Linked DNA regions of Homo sapiens. The protein of the gene in region 1 binds, or shares a complex with, the protein of each later gene. Each region holds a gene or a part of one and is shown on either strand. Other genes may lie near its edges. The genes, in order: PPP4R1 and PPP4R2.

Evidence for each region.
Region 2: PPP4R1 (region 1) and PPP4R2 share a complex: the UniProt entries of both Homo sapiens proteins name them as parts of the PP4 complex.

Annotation. Positions count from the first base shown.
Region 1 is NC_000018.10:9,548,247-9,552,071, reverse strand, and holds part of PPP4R1 (serine/threonine-protein phosphatase 4 regulatory subunit 1), read left to right. Parts: intron 1-1,673; coding exon 1,674-1,794; intron 1,795-1,885; coding exon 1,886-2,020; intron 2,021-2,733; coding exon 2,734-2,875; intron 2,876-3,825. UniProt on the Homo sapiens protein: Regulatory subunit of serine/threonine-protein phosphatase 4. May play a role in regulation of cell division in renal glomeruli. The PPP4C-PPP4R1 PP4 complex may play a role in dephosphorylation and regulation of HDAC3.
Region 2 is NC_000003.12:73,066,076-73,069,844, forward strand, and holds the end of PPP4R2 (serine/threonine-protein phosphatase 4 regulatory subunit 2), read left to right. Parts: 3' UTR 1-3,123; downstream 3,124-3,769. UniProt on the Homo sapiens protein: Regulatory subunit of serine/threonine-protein phosphatase 4 (PP4). May regulate the activity of PPP4C at centrosomal microtubule organizing centers.

The DNA.
Region 1 (3,825 bases):
TCCATTGAGTTCTGGCTTGCCCACTTCTGACTCAAAACACACGCCTCCTCTTCTGCCATATAGTGCCGGGGTGTGAGTCCATCTAGTCAGGGTCAAGCTGGGTTTGCGTTTTGTGATTGCTGTGGTTACGTTCAGTGTACTTGGGGCTTCAGTTTTTCTCGCTGTGGGCTGCCACTACCATTGTCGTTTGCTGAGGGTGGCAGCTGGGGTACCAGTGGTCTTCTAGTGTGAGTATTCCACCCGGCGTTTAGCGGTACCTGCACCCCTGCGTAATGGGTGGGACCTCCTATCTGTGCTTGGTCTCGGGCAGGACTTCCTACAGCTCCTCCTGGAATAAGGAGCATTAGTTCTCCTCTCCCACAGTTGCAGTATTTTTGCTGGGCCCACAGGGTGGACAGGCTTTGGGGCCCCTCCACCAGCAGGTTAAGCCTTTTGCTTTGCACGAGAAAAGGGCCCAGCAGAGTGCTTGATGATTCATGGCTGTCAGTCAGTTGCTTCTGCCTGCTATGAGACATCTCTCCTGTTTTTCCTGACCATCTTTCTTGAAGCACCCATGGGAGGCAGGTACCCTGTGGAAGTCAGAAGGTTGTCTGGGAATGTGAGCTCCCTGTGTCGGGCACATCTGGCTTTGTTTGAGCCACCCCATGCTCCTGCCAGCCACCATCTGGCCCTGGGCAGCTGACTGCAATTCGAGCTGATTTCTCCCTGCCCTGTTAGGTGCTAGCAGGTGTCCTGTCCATCCGGGCTCTGCTGAGGGGCAGTTCTCTTTCCCATCTTGGGAAGTTAGGTTGTTTGTGTGCTTTGCAACCCCAGCTCTCTGATGGGCTCAAGAAAAGATCTTGAAGTTTATGTAGCTTTTTCTACTGTAGGGTCAGTGACGTTCTTTGCAGTTTTCTGTATTCTAAGCAGAAACTGGTCCTATTTGGAATTTTTATTTTGAATTTTGTCAGAAAATAAGTGTGTCTCTTTGAGGATGCATATTTGTATACACAGGTGCATTTATCATTGCTGCATAATCTATATTCATGTTACAGTTGACTTTCTGCTTATTAGAAATGTAAATCCTCTTGAACATAAAATCTGAAAGGCAAAAGTCTCACATCCAAGGTATTTCTTCAAGGCCATCATTGAAGCTTTCAGGTTAGCTTGGTAGATGTCATGAAAGTCTCAGGGCCCCTCAGATGTGATGGGAAGGTTGCTGGAGGACACCCTCCCTCTGTTATCCCTAGCAAATCCCTTCCAGGAAGGCTCCTCAGAGCCTCGACAGGTACACAGTGGACTCCCTCCCTCTGCGGGGACTTCTTACTGAGAAACTTGATTGTAGATGGAAGCTTCTCAGCACATTCCAAACTGTGACCATGGATCAGTGTGGGCCATGTTCCAGTTGAACATACTAGGAAGTGCTTTGCTCTGTCTCAGTCCCCATGGATGCAGAACTCTACAGCTTTTGTTTTCCTTACACTCTAAGGAACTTGAATAGCATGTAAGTGCATTTCCAGATACACAGAGACTGGAGGTAACTGTACAGGAGAGGTCTGCTTAATCACTCCTCTTTGCGTATGTTTGAGACAGGTGCTCAGTAATCCAGTATTACAGATGATTTAAATGGGTAACCTATTTTCATTTGTCTCGCTGATTTTTAAACATTGTCTTTTTGTAATTCCTTTTTGTAGACAGCTGATTTTACTTCTAGAGTTATATAGTCCCAGAGATGTTTATGACTATTTACGTCCCATTGCTCTGAATCTGTGTGCAGACAAAGTTTCTTCTGTTCGTTGGATTTCCTACAAGTTGGTATGTATTGAACTTTTAAAATTTTAGATCAGCAAACTCTAAGATCCTAGAATGGAAGCTGTTCCTCATTTCTCCATGCTCACCCTCCCAGGTCAGCGAGATGGTGAAGAAGCTGCACGCGGCAACACCACCAACGTTCGGAGTGGACCTCATCAATGAGCTTGTGGAGAACTTTGGCAGATGTCCCAAGTGGTCTGGTCGGCAAGCCTTTGTCTTTGTCTGCCAGGTAAGCGAGGCCCTGGGCTTACCTGTTTGTGAGTTTTTCTCCTAGAAGAATGTCTTCTTTAACTTCCTACCTCTCTCTCACCCTCTTCCTTACTCTTAAGGAACAGAACCTTATAGTAGCCTGGCTGTTTATAGGATCATCTGCCCCCATTGTTGGGCATCTGGTGGCCCCTCTCTCCCAGCTAGCCAAGCCCCTCCTTACACTGGCATGCACCACACACACCCCACGTGCCTGCTGTATGTGCTTGTTCCACACCACATGCCTGGTATGTGCGTGTTCTGCTCTGCACACATTCAGACGTGTGTATATGTACATTTCACAGTGCACATACATGCATGTTCCTCACTGTTCCTCACTGCATATTACACAGGCATACATACATGTACCCCACCACACACATACTGTGCACACATATACCATACCACGGTTCCCACTAGAGGGTGCTCATGTCTGGGACCCAGAGCGCAGGTGTGAAAATGAAACACCTGTGAATGAACACTCTAGGTCTCCGTAGAGCAGTTTAAAAACTGTGTCTGTCCGTGTGGGCAGTTAATTATGTAATTTTTGATTTGAGTTCCCAAGTACGTGGAATTTTGGTTAAAAAGCAATAACTAAAATTTGTACCTGTGGTCACTCAGAGATTTTGTTAGCCAGTAGTCGAGTTTTTGGCTACATTGACAGAGAAGCCTAGAGCAGCTGTTTCTCTTCCCCAGACTGTCATTGAGGATGACTGCCTTCCCATGGACCAGTTTGCTGTGCATCTCATGCCGCATCTGCTAACCTTAGCAAATGACAGGGTTCCTAACGTGCGAGTGCTGCTTGCAAAGACATTAAGACAAACTCTACTAGAAAAAGGTAGGTAGTGACTCCACTAGAAGAAGCGTGTGAGTAGAGAAGGAGGTCTGTGGACTGCACTGGATCAGCAGATATCAAAGCAGAAGTATTGTCTGCTCAGAGAAAATAATCTGGTGGAAGGAAATACTTTAGTTGTTCCGGTGATTCTCCCAAGAGGGCATGGAAGATGAAAGGGATTTTTTAATTAGCCCTCTACTGTTCTAGTTGGAGTTTATTTATCGGAAGCATGTATCATTTTTATCATTTAAAACTTAGGTTTTTTTGTTTGCTTGATATTTTGAGACGGAGTCTCGCCCTGTCACCCAGGCTGGAGTGCAATGGTGCGATCTCAGCTCACTGTAACCTCTGCCTTCCGGGTTCAAGCAATTCTTCTGCCTCAGCCTCCCCAGTAGCTGGGATTACAGGTGCCCGCCACCACGCCCAGCTAATTTTTTGTATTTTTAGTAGAGATGGGGTTTCACCATGTTGGCCAGGCCGGTCTCGAACTCCTGACCTCATGTGATCTGCCTGCCTCAGCCTCCCAAAGTGCTGGGATTACAGGCATGACCCACCGTGCCTGACCTAAAACTTAGTTTTTAAACTTGGGTGTTGTTTTTATGTACAAACCATTGCCTGGCAGCGTGCCACTTGCAATCTGCAGTATGGGGGCTGGTACCTACCTATGTTTGCTCTCCCTTCTGCTTTCTCTTCATTAGGCAAGAGACAGATGCCCCATAGTATTTGTTTTGTTGGAAATTATAATCTCTTCAAGATTAAAGGTGGTTTATTTATTTTAATCGACCCCCCCGCCGCCTGCCGCCCAAAACACCTCATAAATATAGTTGCACGGATGAATGAAGCACAGAAAGAAGTTTGTAGTAGATGTCAAAGAATAAGGATAAATGAATATTTTTTTTTCTCCTTTTTTTTTTTTTGTAGTTGGTGTTTGGAAGCATTTTTCTTTCACTGCT
Region 2 (3,769 bases), on another chromosome or scaffold:
TATGCAAGAAGCTTTTTGTCTTGTCTCTTTCTGATAGCTCTAGCAGTTTTCATATTTTGGTCATAGTTTCAACATTTTAACATGTGAATTATAGGGTTTCATGCTGGTTTCCAGATTTTATTGTTTGGCTACGTACAATGGAACTTTAAGTCATATATACATACATATATATATATATATATATATAATTCTAAGGGGGGAAATGTTATATTTTTCTGTTTCTATAAGAGATGAATACAGTGGATACTTTTTCTATTGGTAATGATTGAGTTCACCTCTTTCAGAAGACATTTTCTTTCTCTTCTGAGTAATTGAAATAAAATCTGGCCCTTGTGAAACCCTGGAAATCTTAAGTCTGTTGAAATACCAGGTTAAACACATTCCAAGAGATCTGTTCAAACTCAAATTCTTTTGTATACTTCTGAGGTGCCTGAGAAAAAGACTTCATTATTTATGAGAAAATATGCTTTATCTTGGAAATTGTGTTCAAATGTTAGCTTACTATTTTGTAGAATGAATGTTTATGAAGCTGATATGAGACCATCTCAGAAGAACCAAGTAGGTTCCTTGACCTTTTGCTTGCTTTTCTGAACATTGTGAATATTACACATGTCTTTCTAAATTATTCTAGGGTATGCAAATGTCAATGGTATGAAACACCACTGTACTGGAAGAATTAATATATTACTTTAGTATGTACCTGAGCTAAATGACTGAAGCTTTAGGGGTGCATAGAAACCACCATAATTTGTATGACATTTTGAAGTGAATTAAATATTTTTGAACATGCTTCTTCGACAGCCAGTGTTATATTTTTCAGATCAACACAAAGCACAATGATTACTCGAAATTCAGTATTTTCAAATTTACATATTTAAAGTCATGCAAGCTGTAACTTCCCTGTCAAAATTACTGGCTGCCAAATTTATACCTGTTTCTTCAGCTGTACCTTTTGATATTTAAAGTTTTTAAATTTCTGTAAAGTAGATTTTGTAGAATGTAATGTGTTCACTGCCTTTGTGAAGCGGTATATAATTGTATAATTTCTGTGTGTAAACTGAATGCTTGGGCTTTCAATACAGTATTCATATAAAGCAATAAATATTAATGTTATGAAATATTTGACTACATTTTTATCAAAATATGAAAGAATCCCCCCTTTTTTAGTTTCAGATACCTGAACTACACAGATGAGCTTCTAAAACTGATGCAAACAGTTTCTGACACTGTATAATATGCTTTTGGGTGATTTGGGGGGCAACCACAAGTTTTGCGTTTTGACTACTTAAATCATCATGGCTATAAATACCAAAACGATTTGGATCCATTTATGTTTGTAGGATAATATACTACTGACTGACTTGACTGTCAGGTTCACAACAGCTAGATGATATATTTATGACTATGTCTAATAGTTGAAATAAAATCTGAATATTGATTTACTATACCCAAGAGGGGAGAAAAATTAACCATTGTAAATTTTTAAAAAATTTTTCAAAAATGTTAAAATGAGGCAAATTTAAGTTTACAAATTTTGAAATTTTCTTTTGAATATTTATGAAATTGTCAGTAAACTTACCTAAGATCCTGTGACCTTTTGATATTTTTTATTTTAATTGTAGTGCCATGGACCATTTGTAAACAAATTGATTTACTTTTGTTGGTTGTAAGTTGAAGATTTAGCATTATGACTTTGAGGTCTGTGGTTTTATTTGTAAACTTGCAATTGCTATATTTGCAAGGGCAAATGTATTTCTTTATTAAATAAAGTACAATAATGGTGAATGTACCAAAATGACATCACTTAACTCTATGAGAGATCTGCATTTTAATCTATAGTTTAATAGTTTTAATATTTATTAGATATTCATATGTTGATCATAGATCAAACTTGTTGCTGTTTATACAGATAATTGTAGAATGCTCATGGAATATCTTTAGGGTAGGTGGAATACTTCTGTAGTTAAATTGGGAAACCTTGTTCAGCTGGTTTTAGATATTGATGGCCATTTGGAAGTAAATTTCCGCAGGTATTCATAGGTGCACTTAACACAGACTTTGCTTAATGAAAATGTCAGTTCTAATAGTAACTGATTCACTTCTGAACAGAAGTGATTTTAGGCATATTTCTTAACATATATCAAGCAAAGTCCTGTTAAAAGATCTAAATGAAGAATGGAGACCTCAGTGATTAAAGATATTTTGTTTCTGACCTTGAGCAGATTGCTTACCTGTTCTCTAGACTATAACCCAACATGTAAAAAAAATTTGAAGATGGTGATGAGGAAAGTGAGATATATATATATATATGTATTATGTTTCTAGCACTTTTCCCTTTTAAAAAGTGAAAATATCCTTGTACATTTTTGAAAAATATATTTTCAGTTCTGAAAAATGTAGCAGAAGTAGTGAAAATGTCATATTTTAAATGTTGATTATTAGATAAATTTAACCTGCTTAGGGTTTATTGTAACTACACCTTTCAGACGTGTGTTTTGGAGTAGTGGAATTGCCAGCCAGGCCCTGTGGCTTGGAAAGGCATCCCAGAAATCCTCGGCCAGAAGGTGTGGCTTGTTAAAGCATTGAGATTCAGAGTATTTTGTTTTGCCGGTGTAGATAGGCATGTATTTATGCATTTTTGCATTTGTAAAATCAACTTTTCAAATAATGTAAATGTAATATACTAGTTTACTTAAAGGTACTTGGGCAGAATCTAAAGCTGCTACAATGTTTGATTATGAAAAAAATGTAACATGGTAAGGATGAAAATGCAACTTACAAAACCAAAGGAATTAAAAATTTTCGGTAGTGTTTCAAATTGTCTTCTGAACAGGAATTTAACATTGGTTTTGATGAAGGTGAGGGTCAGTTCTCAAGATTTGTGCTAATCATAAAATGAATGAATGCAAAACACCTTGTAATTTCATATGGAATTATAAAAATTAGGTTTGCTGGGTTTTGGCCTAATAAGAGTGCTAGTATGTATTGGTTAGACTACATCTTACTATTTCACATTTTAAAAATCAGTACACTCTTCAGGATTTTCTTTTATTTCAACTTGGAGCCTAGATTACTTTGCCAAATGTATTATTTTCATAATGCAATAAAATATAAATTAGAATATTTCTATGTGTGTAATTATTTTATGTGCCATAATGGTTTATTTGCCCTGCTGCCACTCCGACTCCCCCCCAACCCCCCCAACCCCCCCCGACCCTGCGCCACCACCCACCTCAAATCCTTAACTGAGGAAACTCAATGTGTGACTTTGTTACAGCCCTGTTTCTTACATGGTGACAAAGTGTTCCAGCAGGACTTGACAGTTGTGGTTCTTTGCCAGGCAAGTCATGCTGATTGTCAACAAAATCCAGATTTAAATAAGTCTCCACTGGTATAATTTGGCACTAGCTTACATGTATATATTTACAATATTTGTGTTAATCATTTTAAAGGCTGGGCGCAGTGGCTCACGCCTGTAATCCCAGCACTTGAGGCCAAGGCAGGTAGATCTCTTGAGGCCAGAAGTTCGAGACCAGCCTGGCCAACATGATGAAACCCCGTCTCTACTAAAAATAACAAAAATTAGCCAGGTGTGGTGGTGGGCACCTGTAATCCCGGCTACTCAGGAGGCTGAGGCAGGAGAATTGCTTGAACCTGGGAGGCAGAGGTTGCAGTGAGCCGAGATCACACCACTGCACTCCAGCCTGGGCGACAGATCGAGAGTCCGTCTTTAAAAATAAAAAAAATCATTTTTGAAATCCCACCTTCA